Regions from separate parts of the Homo sapiens genome. Here region 2 is linked to region 1. Evidence: fine-mapped expression QTL. A gene starts in region 1. The other region holds a variant in brackets. All regions are shown on one strand. Distances are between the middles of the regions. Region 1 holds the start of CMTM7 (CKLF like MARVEL transmembrane domain containing 7). Region 2 overlaps CMTM7 (CKLF like MARVEL transmembrane domain containing 7).

The links. PIP is the estimated chance that this variant, and not a neighbour inherited with it, causes the effect.
Region 2: its variant is the best candidate, but not a certain one, in a credible set for the expression of CMTM7 in whole blood (INTERVAL, PIP 0.86).

Annotation. Positions count from the first base shown.
Region 1 is chr3:32,388,545-32,393,920 of GRCh38, forward strand. CMTM7 (CKLF like MARVEL transmembrane domain containing 7) reads left to right here and starts at 3,309. Exons shown (of 5, transcript NM_138410.4): 1 at 3,309-3,521. The coding sequence starts at 3,363.
Region 2 is chr3:32,439,532-32,444,907 of GRCh38, forward strand. CMTM7 (CKLF like MARVEL transmembrane domain containing 7) reads left to right here. Exons shown (of 5, transcript NM_138410.4): 2 at 2,309-2,482. Among named protein-coding and RNA genes, the nearest start is that of CMTM7, 50 kb to the left of the region's middle. RefSeq lists a silencer at 4,026-4,320. The variant CAAAAAAAA/C (reference allele first, on the strand shown) is at 2,967.

The DNA of each region.
Region 1 (5,376 bases):
GTGACATCTTTAAAGTGGGCTATGAAGCCCTTTGCCTAAGACCTTGCTTTCCCAAGGGGCAGCTATTCACATCTAGCAGACAACACACTAGTGTAGACATCTCAGTGCACTTGGCAAGCCTCTGAAGCCTCTTCTTGTAAGTCAGGCCAGCAATGGCCCTTGCACTGGCAAGCATCTTGCTCAAGCTCTTAAGTGATCATAATAAAGTGATTAACACAGAGTGCCCAGCACAGTGATTACTTCTGATTAGAGGTGGGTGGTGCATTAGTCAACACCAGGCAGAAAAGCCCAGCAATGTTTCTGAGCAGACTCAGGAAGAGATAGTTGTTCTCAAACTTGAGTATGCATCAGAATCACAGAATGATGGTGAAGGGGGGTGGGGAGTGAGGGTGGGGTTGGGAAGACTTGTTAAGACACACACTGCTGAGCCCTACCCCTAGAGTTTCTGATTCAGCAGGTCAGAGTGGGCCCCTAGAATCTGCATTTCTCACAAGTTCGCAGGTACTGCTGGTTGGGGGGCTATACACTGAAAATCACTGTTAGAAGACTGCTGAATTGGACAAAGGCCCCTCAAAGGAGAAATGATCCAGCACTTGGTTTTTCTGCTTCCCTGAAACCCTCATCTCAACAAAGATGCCCTGTTATCTCCACTGTGGGTCCTGAAGCCTTAGACAAGTACAGAAGTGAAATGTACATCTACATAAAAAAATGATACACAGTACTAACTTCATGCCTGTGGGTATAGAGCCAGAAATGTCACAGCACACCTGCATATCTATCACATTGTCACAGCAGCCCCTAGATGCAATTATTCCTGAATTACAGAGAAACAAATGGAGGTACCAGGCAGCTGTGACTGTTGTCTACAGAGAAGACACACGTGGAAGGCAATTTTTCTTGGTCATGAAAATTGTCAAATGTACATAAAGGTGAAATAAATAGTGTAATAAATCCCCAAATGTTTCAACTGCAGTGGACTCTGGCAATGACAGTGGTTCTCAAATTTGAGTGTGCATCAGAATCACCTAAGAGACTTGCCAAAACAGATATTGCATGGGTATCATCCACCAACAAGAATTATTAGGACTTTGCCACATCGAAAACTCTTCTGATGACAAGACAGCACTGGCAGGGAATAAACTCACAAAGATAGTTTTATGTTTCACTTTGCTTTGTTTTGTTCTTGAGGCAGGGTCTTGCTCTGTCACCCAGCCTGGAGTACAGTGTTGTAATCATGACTCACTGCAGCTTCAACCTCCCGGGCTCAAGCAATCCTCCCACCTCAGCCTCCTGAGTAGCTGGGACTACAGGCATGTGCCACCATGCCCAGTTAATTTTTGTATTTTTTTGTAGAGATGGGGTTTCTCCATGTTGCCCTTGCTGGTGTCAAACTTGGGCTTGTGAGCTTGATTTTGGGATTACAGACATGAGCCACCGTGCCCAGCCAGATTTTTTGATGTTATCTCCAAATGAATAAATGTAAGTATGGCCACAGGGACACTGCTCAAAAGGAACATGATAACATACCTCGTTTTGGTAGTCCCGTTTGGGCCTGTCTTCATTTTTATGTTTTTTTCCTTTTCTTTTTCTTTTTCTTTTTTTAAGAGACAGTGTCTCACTCTGTCACCCAGACAAGAGTGCGGTGGCAAGATCATAGCTCACTGCAATCTCGGACTCCTGGCCTCCAGGGATCTTCATGCCTTGACTTCCCAAAGTGCTGGGATTATAGGTGTGAGCCACCACGCCTGGCCTCTTCATTTTTAAAACAACCCAAAAGGGATACAGAATAGAATGTCACTTGGATAGCTGTTTGACAGCTTTTTCTTTTTCTTGTCTTTTTTTTTTTTTTTAATTGAGACAAGGTCTTGCTCTGTGGCCCAGGCTGGAGTGCAATGCCACTGTCATGGCTCACTGCAGCCTCAACCTCCTGGGCTCCAAGGCTCCTCCAGACTCAGCCTCCTGAACAGGCATGTGCCACTGCACCCAGCTAATTTATTTATTTATTTATTTTTATTTTTATTTTTATTTTGAGACAGAGTCTCGCTCTGTCGCCCAGGCTCGAATGCAGTGGCGCAAGCTCTGCTCACTGCAAGCTCCGCCTCCCGGGTTCACGCCATTCTCAGCATCCCGAGTAGCTGTGACTGCAGGCGCCCGCCACCACGCCCAGCTAATTTTTTGTATTTTTAGTAGAGACGGGGTTTCACCGTGTTAGCCAGAATGGTCTCGATCTCCTGACCTCGTGATCCGCCCGCCTCGGCCTCCCAAAGTGCTGGAATTACAGGCGTGAGCCACCGCGCCCGGCCCAGCTAATTTATTTTTATTTTTTGTTTTTTGTAGAAATGAGGTCTGGCCATGTTCCCCAGGCTGACAGCTTCTAACAGAAGCAAACATATGCTCCCCTTGTAACCAGTGCGTTCACTTGCAGATATTTGTCCCAGAGAAATGAGAGTTTGTATCCACCAAAAAAACGTGTACCATAATAGTGACTATAGCCAGAAAAGAGATGAGGGAGGGGGGAAAGGCCGGAAGGAGGGAAGGAGGCAGGCAAGCAGGTAGGAAGGAAGCAAGCTTGGTGTCCATCAACTGGGTAAACGTTTAAAAAATACGGTATCTTTGCACAGTGGAGTACTACTCAGCAATAAAAAGGAAGGAACTGATATGAACTACTTATATTCCCAACAGGATGGATCTTCTAATTTGTTATGTTGAAGGAGAATATTCTGTATTACTTCAAGTTTATGAAGTCCAAGAACAGGCAAAATGAACCTACAGTGACAGAAAGCAGAATACACTGTAGTGGTTGCCTGAGGCTGGATAAGGATGGGGCCAGGGAAGGAAGGTAGGTCAGGAAGGCCCACCACGGAACTTTCTGGGGTGATGGGCACGTTCTATTTGTTGATCTGGGCGACGGTTACACAGGTGTACACATATATAAAAATTAGTGGAGCTGAACACGTAAGGTCTGGGCATCACACTTTATGTAAGTTAAACTTCAGTAAAGTGCTCTCAGCACACATCCGCAGCCGCACCCACACAAAATCCCAGGAGGCTCAGTACCAGCTGTGGTCCGGGCCTTGCCCACCTCGGAGAGGCCACGACCCAAGGCATCCGGTTTCCTCTCGCTCCAGTCTAACTTCCGCGCATCTACGAGGGCCGGGACTGCCGCTACCTTTCTGGAAGGCGCCGGCCGGCCAGTCACCGGAGGGATCCCGCCAGAGGCGGCTCCGCGTCTCCAGCAGCGGGGCAGGGACCCGGGCGCCCCGCCCTCGCCAGCGCCCGCCCCCGCCCGCCCCCGGCCCGCCCTCTGTATCTGGCCCCTGGGCAGCTGCCCGGGGAGGCGGCCAGCGAGCTGGGGCCGCGCAATGTCGCACGGAGCCGGGCTCGTCCGCACCACGTGCAGCAGCGGCAGCGCGCTCGGACCCGGGGCCGGCGCGGCCCAGCCCAGCGCGAGCCCCTTGGAGGGGCTGCTGGACCTCAGCTACCCCCGCACCCACGCGGCCCTGCTGAAAGTGGCGCAAATGGTAAGTGAGCGCGGGGCGCGAGGCCGAGGTTCTACAGGGCGTCCCGGGAAAGCAGGGGTCCGGGAGCGGACGCGCCGGGCGTCTGGACCCGGCCGGAGCCCAGGGAGCATCGCGCAGCGGGCGGGGCACCGCGTCGCTAAAGTTCGCGGCAGGCTTCCTCCGGGAAAGTTGCTGCCGCAGCCCCCGCGCTGGAGCTCAGTCCCCAGAGCCGCCCCGGCCCTTGCTCCCGCGGACCCAGGTCGCCAGGGTCGCAAGTTTCTCCGGCCACCCCCCTGCGAAGCCTGACCCGCCTACTGACTGAAACCACGGGCAAAGTTCCTTTTCGTCTTTCTTCCTCTTCTCTGGGCCGCGCCGCTTCGAACCCGAGCCGGGGGTGGAAGAGTCGCCCAGGCGGCGGCGCTGAGGGAGCGAAACCCGACCTCTTCCCCGTCCACGGCCTCCTCTTTCCTCCGAACCCAGCGCGGCAGGGCTTCCCTGCTCTGTGTGCAGTTTCGCTCGAAGGAGGAGGTCAGAGGGTCTTGTGTTCCATAGTGGGGAAAAAGAACTGGGACCGTTGAGACGGCCGTCCTGGTCCCCTGCGCCCTCAAGTTCCGAGGGAGGGCCCGGGTCTCAGGGGGCTCTGGAGGGCAGGGGGTCAGTTGGGAAAGGCCTGTTGTCAGGGGCTGGTACTCATGTAGGGGAGCCAGACTGTTGAATGGGAGTCACCCGTGGAGCCAGGCAGGATGAGTGTCTGGGCTTGGATTGTGACCAACTCAGCACAAGGGCCTCCTACCAGGGCAGACGTTGCCTGGCCGATTCTCTTGTTCCCCACTCTTTTCTTTTCTCCCCTCCCGTTTTTTTCTTCTTTAAAAGTTTGTAATCTGAAACAACTTTTCCGTTTGTATGATGTGTTTTGAAACTGGGTTGGGCTGTTTGTGAGTCTCCACCATTGTAATGTTTGCACCAAGAACGGTGGGGAGGGGAGCGGTAAGTTTCAAAAAGAGGTGTGGGGAAAGGAGTGTGGGGCTGGACAAGGTCACACACCCAGAAGCTGGGGCCTGCTAAGGTGGCCTGGCCCCAGGGGGTTGGGCACAGGACGTCTGTGCATCTATAGCACTGCCATTCCAGACACTGAGTGTGCATGAGGTGGCCCTCATGTCTTGCTTGGGCCAGACCTAAAGAGAAGGGGCGCTGAGTTCCTGCCTCCCTAAGAACGGTGTCTAGATAGACCAAAAACTAGGAAGAGCCATTTCAGCAACGTACAAAAAAATCTGGTGCTGAGCATTGTTGGGTTTGAGCAGGGCATTTTTTGGCCCAGGCTAAGAGATTTGATCAGCCAAATAGAAGAGACCAGCCCATCTCACCATCCTTAAAAGATGGGCTGGGGTGAGACATATCCTACCTGAGCATTGGAAGGGATGAGTTTGGTAGACAGAGAATGGGATCAGAAGCCTCCATCTTGGCCCCTGAGTTTGCTGGACAAAGATATTGTGGGATGAAAAGTCTTCTTGTTGGTCTATGAGTTTGGTACACAAACATAATGGAGATGAAACCTCGGCAACATAGCGAGACCCCATCTCTACAAAAAAAATTTTAAAACCTTGTGTGGTTGGCATGGGCCTCTAGTCCCAGTTACTTGGGAGGCTGAGGTGAGAGGATTGATTGAACTGAGAAGGTCAGTGAACTGTGCCACTGCACTAGTCTGCGTGACGGAGGGAGGCCTGTCTCAAAAAAAAAAAAAAAAAAAGGTACAAAGAAAAGGTAATGGAGATGAGAAGCCTTCATGTGGTCCATGATTTTGATGAATAAAGATACTGGGAGATGAGAAATCTCCATCTCATCTTAAGCTCCTCAGCTAGCCTCTGGCCTGTGGTCC
Region 2 (5,376 bases), 51 kb after region 1:
CAACCTCAACCTCCTAGGCTCAATTGATCCTCCCACCTCAGCCTCCCAAGTTGCTGAGACCACAGGTGCATGCCACCACGCCCAGCTAGTTTTTGTATTTTTTGTAGAGACAGGGTCTTGCTTGTTGCCCAGGCTGGTCTCAAACTCCTGGCTTCAGGTGATCCACCCGCCTTGGCCTCCCAAAGTGCTGGGATTGCAGGCGTGAGCCTGGGATGCCAGGCATGCACCAGGCCCCATTTTGTGATTTAATTCTCATTGTAGACTGACATTTTCTATAGCAGAATTTTTCAACAGTAGTACTGTAGTTGAGGGGCCACATTTGGGGCTGGAGATGGGTAACTCTTTACTATGGGAGCTCTCCTATTTATTGCAGGGTGCTTAGCAGCACCCTGGGCCTCTACCCACTAAATGCCAGTAGCAACCCCCATCCCCGCAAATTGTGTAAACCAAAAATATATACACACATTGCCAAATGTCCCATAGGACACAAAATCATATACCCATACGCTAACACACCCATACACTAACACCACACGCATACACACACACACACACACACACACACACACACACACTTTAAGACTCGCTGCTCTGGCCAGGCGTGGTGGCTCACACCTGTAATCACAGCACTTTGGGGAGCTGGGGCAGGCAGATTACTTGAGTTCAGGAGTTTAAGACCAGTCTGGCCAACATGGTGGAACCCCCTCTCTACTAAAAATGCAAAAATTAGCTGGGCATGGTGGTGCATACCTGTAGTCCCAGCTACTCTGGAGGCTGAGGCAAGAGAATCGCTTGAATCTCGTAGGCAGAGTTGCAGTGAGCCAAGATCATGCTACTGCACTCCAGCCTGGGCAACAGAGTGAGACTCCATCTCAAAAAAAAAAGAATCACTCCTCCATAGGAGAGAGGCAGTGTATAAAATAATCTTTTTTCTAAATTGGTTGTGCATTTTAAATAGATTCCTGGCTGGAAACAATGGCTTACGTCCATAATCCCAGCACTTTGGGAGGCCAAGGCAGGGGGATTGCTTGAGCTCAGGAGTTTGAAACCAGCCTGGGCCACATGGCAAAACCCCGTCTCTACTACAAATATGAAAATTAGCCAGGCATGATGGCACACGCCTGTAATCCTAGCTACTTGAGAAGCTAAGGTGGGAGGATGACTTGAGCCCAGGAAGCAGAGGTTGCAGTGAGCTGAGATTGGTTCACTGCACTCCTGCCTGGGGAACAGAGCCAGACTCTATCTCAGAAAAACAAAAACTAAATAACTAAATAAATAAGTAGATTCTAAGATTTTACACACATTGAATCCCGTGTGTTACTGGTTTGTTCCCTACATGGAGTAGACAGGTTTTCTCTTTGGCCTTCACGGAAGCTCAGACTGTTACTCATTCTACTTTCTTGTACTCATGCATTGCTAATAGTTTTCATCTGGTTATTAATTCAGTAGCAGGCCGTTAAGCATGTTCACTCGTGCTGAGATATTTCTTAGTGAGCTCTCACCACATGCCCTGATGGTGAGCAGCCTCACCTCTTAAACAGGATTCCTGCATGGTTGAGAACCCGTCCACCTTTCTCGGCTTGTTATGATCAGAGCTTACACTTTTGGGAGGTAGAACTGCATCTGACATGGAGGAACATGGTCCTTAGAGTCAGACAGACCTGGATTCAAATCCCACTTCTGCTTACAAGCCAGATAGCCTTGGACTGATGATTGAACCTGCATGCCTCCGTTTCCCCTTATGAACATGGGGATGATTTTGTCTACCTGGCAGGGTTCTGCATGGCCTTAGCGAGATCACGTATGTCAGACATCAGTAAATGGTAACTTGTTATCTGTCAGTTGATAGCTGTAAGGTATGAATTACCATCTTTGTAGGTCAAAAACCATCAAATATTGGCAACTTCGTACAATTGGGCCTAATATGTAAACCCCAGGTCACCATCACGCTGTCCTCTTTGCTCTATGGATATCCAGCAGATGAAAGGGATGGTTCTGCTTTGTTATTTTCTTGTTTTCCTGCTTCTTCTGAGGGGGCTTCCCGCTGGCACAATCTAACAAACTTCAGAGAGGACGAAGTCAGTCTCTGCTGTCATCAGTGTTCACAGACAGTAGTTTCAAAGTGTGTACCACATGAAGTTGCAGTCTTCCAACCTTCCAGCCAGTGTGTATGGAAATAACCTGAATTGTATTAATAGCAGTTCTTCAATGTGGGCCTGCTGGGGGATGCTTGGTTGTTTTCCGTTGTTTGTTCCCTGGGTGCCCGTCTTGGGCAAGCATTTCTCTGATGTCTCTATTTATGTGGCAGGTCACCCTGCTGATTGCCTTCATCTGTGTGCGGAGCTCCCTGTGGACCAACTACAGCGCCTACAGCTACTTTGAAGTGGTCACCATTTGCGACTTGATAATGATCCTCGCCTTTTACCTGGTCCACCTCTTCCGCTTCTACCGCGTGCTCACCTGTATCAGCTGGCCCCTGTCGGTAAGAGAGTGGTCTGGCCCTGTCCTCCGCATGCACAAGTCAGGATGTTAGCTAGAGTACTGAGACCTGACAGAGTTTTTCCCGTCTGCCCATCTCACCTCTTTAACCATTCTTTGCTGCCTCTGCCCTGAATTTCCTATTGTTTGGTGGACATCTCTGCTTGATGTCCTGCTGGTTTTTAAAACTCACTTTCCAGCTACAAGAAGGCTGTGGCTGGCCGGGCGCGGTGGCTCACGCTGGTAATCCCAGCACTTTGGGAGGCTGAGGCGGGCGGATCACGAGGTCAGGAGTTCGAGACCACGGTGAAACCCCGTCTCTACTAAAAAATACAAAAAATCAGCCGGGCGTGGTGGCGGGTGCCTGTAGTCCCAGCTACTCAGAGAGGCTGAGGCAGGAGAATGGCGTGAACCCGGGAGGCGGAGCTTGCAGTGAGCCGAGATCGAGCCACTGCACTCCAGCCTGGGTGACAGAGCGAGACTCCTCT[CAAAAAAAA/C]AAAAAAAAAAAAAAAAAAAAAGAAGAAGGCTGTGGCTATTGCCCCATGCTTACTTTCTCAAGCAACAGAGAATGGCTGTGTGTGTATGAGTTGGGAAAAGGAACACGGAAGGAAATTGTAGGTGAAGATGATGGGTATTGATGCTGTTGTGAGGATTGAATGATAGGATTTTCTGGCTAAAAGAGACTAGTGGGGGCTGAGGAGACAGTCAGAAGTTGCCAGACTTTTTCTTCCCACTGTATTATTTTTTAAAGCTTCATTGAGATGCAGTTCATATGCCGTATTGTTCACCCATTTCAAGGGTACAATTCAATGGAGTTTAGTATATTTCCAGAGTTGTCCAACCATTACTACAGTCAACTTGAGAACATTTTCATCATTTCAGAAAGAAATTCCATACCTTTTAGCTGTCACCTCCCTACCACTCATCCCTCCAGTCCTAAGCAATCACTAATCTTCTGTCTCTAAAATTTTTCTACTCTGAACGTCTCATGTAAATGGAATTGTATATGTGGTCTTTTGTAACTGGCATCTTTCACTTAGCTGAATGTTTTCATGGTTCATCCATGTTGTAGCAGGTATCAGTATTTCATTCCTTTTTTTCTTTTTAGAGACAGGGTCTCACTCTGTCACCCAGGCTAGAGTGCAGTGACGTGATCGCGACTCACTGCAGCCTCAACCTCCCAGGCTCAGGTGATCTTCCCACCTCAGCCTCCCGAGTAGCTGAGACTACAGGTGCATGCCACCACACCTGGATAATTTTTGTGTTTTTTTTTTTACAGAGATGAGGTTTCATTGTGTTGCCCAGGCTGGTTTCAAACTCCTGGCCTTAAGCAATCCTCCCACTTTGGCCTCCCAAAGTGCTGGGATTACAGACATGAGCCACCATGCCAGCCTTTTTATAACCAAATTTTATTCCATTGTGTGGATAGACCAGACTGCATTTTGTTTTTCATTCATCTTCAGTGGACCTTTGGGTTGTTTTTACCTTTTGGCTATTATGAATAATGCTGCTATGAGCATTCATATACAAGTTTTTTGTGTGGACATATTTTCATTTTTCTCTGGTATGTATCTAGGAGGGGAATTACTGAGTCATATGGTCACTTTGTGTTTAATTGTTTGAGGAACCGCCAGACTGTATGCCAAAGTGGCTCACTGTTTTACATTCCCACCAGGAGTGTATGAAGGTTCCAGTTTCACAACATCTTTGCCAACACTTATTATCTGACTTTCTGATTCCAGCCATTCTAGTGAGTGTAAAGTGTTATTTCCTGTGGTTTTGATTTTCATTTCTCCAGTGACTAATGATGTTAATCATCTTTTCATGTGCTTTTGGCCATTTGTATATTTTCTTTGAAGAAATGTCTATTCGAGTCCTTTGCCTATTTTTTAATTAGGTTATTTGTCTTTTCATTATTGAGTTGTGAGAATTCCTTCTATAGTCTGGATAAAAGTCCCTTATCAGCTATATGACTTGAAAATATTTTCTCCCATTCTGATGTTTTTCACTTTTTTGATGGTGTCCTTTAAAGCACAAGTTTTTAATTTTGATAAATTTAGTTTATTTATTTTTTTTCTTTTTTAGCTCACGCTTTTCTTACATATAAGAAGCCATTTCCAAATTCAGATTGTGAAAATTTACTTCTATGTTTTCTTCCAAGAGTTTTATAGTTTTAGTTTATACATTTAGGTATTTGATCCATTTTGAGTTAATGTTTTTTGCATAGGGTGTGAGGTAAGGGTTCAATTTCATTCTATTGCATGTAGATATCCAATTATCCCAGCATCATATGTTGAAAAGACTATTCTTTCCCCCATTGAATGGCATTGGCACCCTTGTTGAAATCAGTTGACCATTAAATACATGGATTTAGTTCTGGACTCTCAATTCTATTCCATTGATCTATGTGTCTGTCGTTATGCCATTATCACACTATTTTGATTACTGTAGCCTTGTAGTAAGTTGTAAAACTAGCAAATATGCAGCCTCCCAATTATTCTTCTTTTTTAGGATTGATTTGGATCGTTACAATTCCATGTGAATTTTAGAATCGGGTTTTCAATTTCTACAAAAATCAGCTGGGATTATAATAGGAATTATGTTGAATCCATAGATCAATTTGGAGAATATTGCTATCCTAATAATATTGTCTTATCCATGAACATGGGAAGTTTTTCCATTTTTTTAGATAATCTGTTATTTCTTTCAATGTTTTGTAGTTTTCAGAGTAAAAGTGTTTTTTGTTTGTTGCTTTGTTTGAAACAGGTTCTTGCTCTGTTACCCAGGCTGGAGTGCAGTGGCAAGATCATAGCTCCCTGCATCCTCAAACTCCTGGGCTCAAGCAATCCTCTTGCCTCAGCCTCCCAAAATGCTGGGACTACAGGCATGAGCCACTGT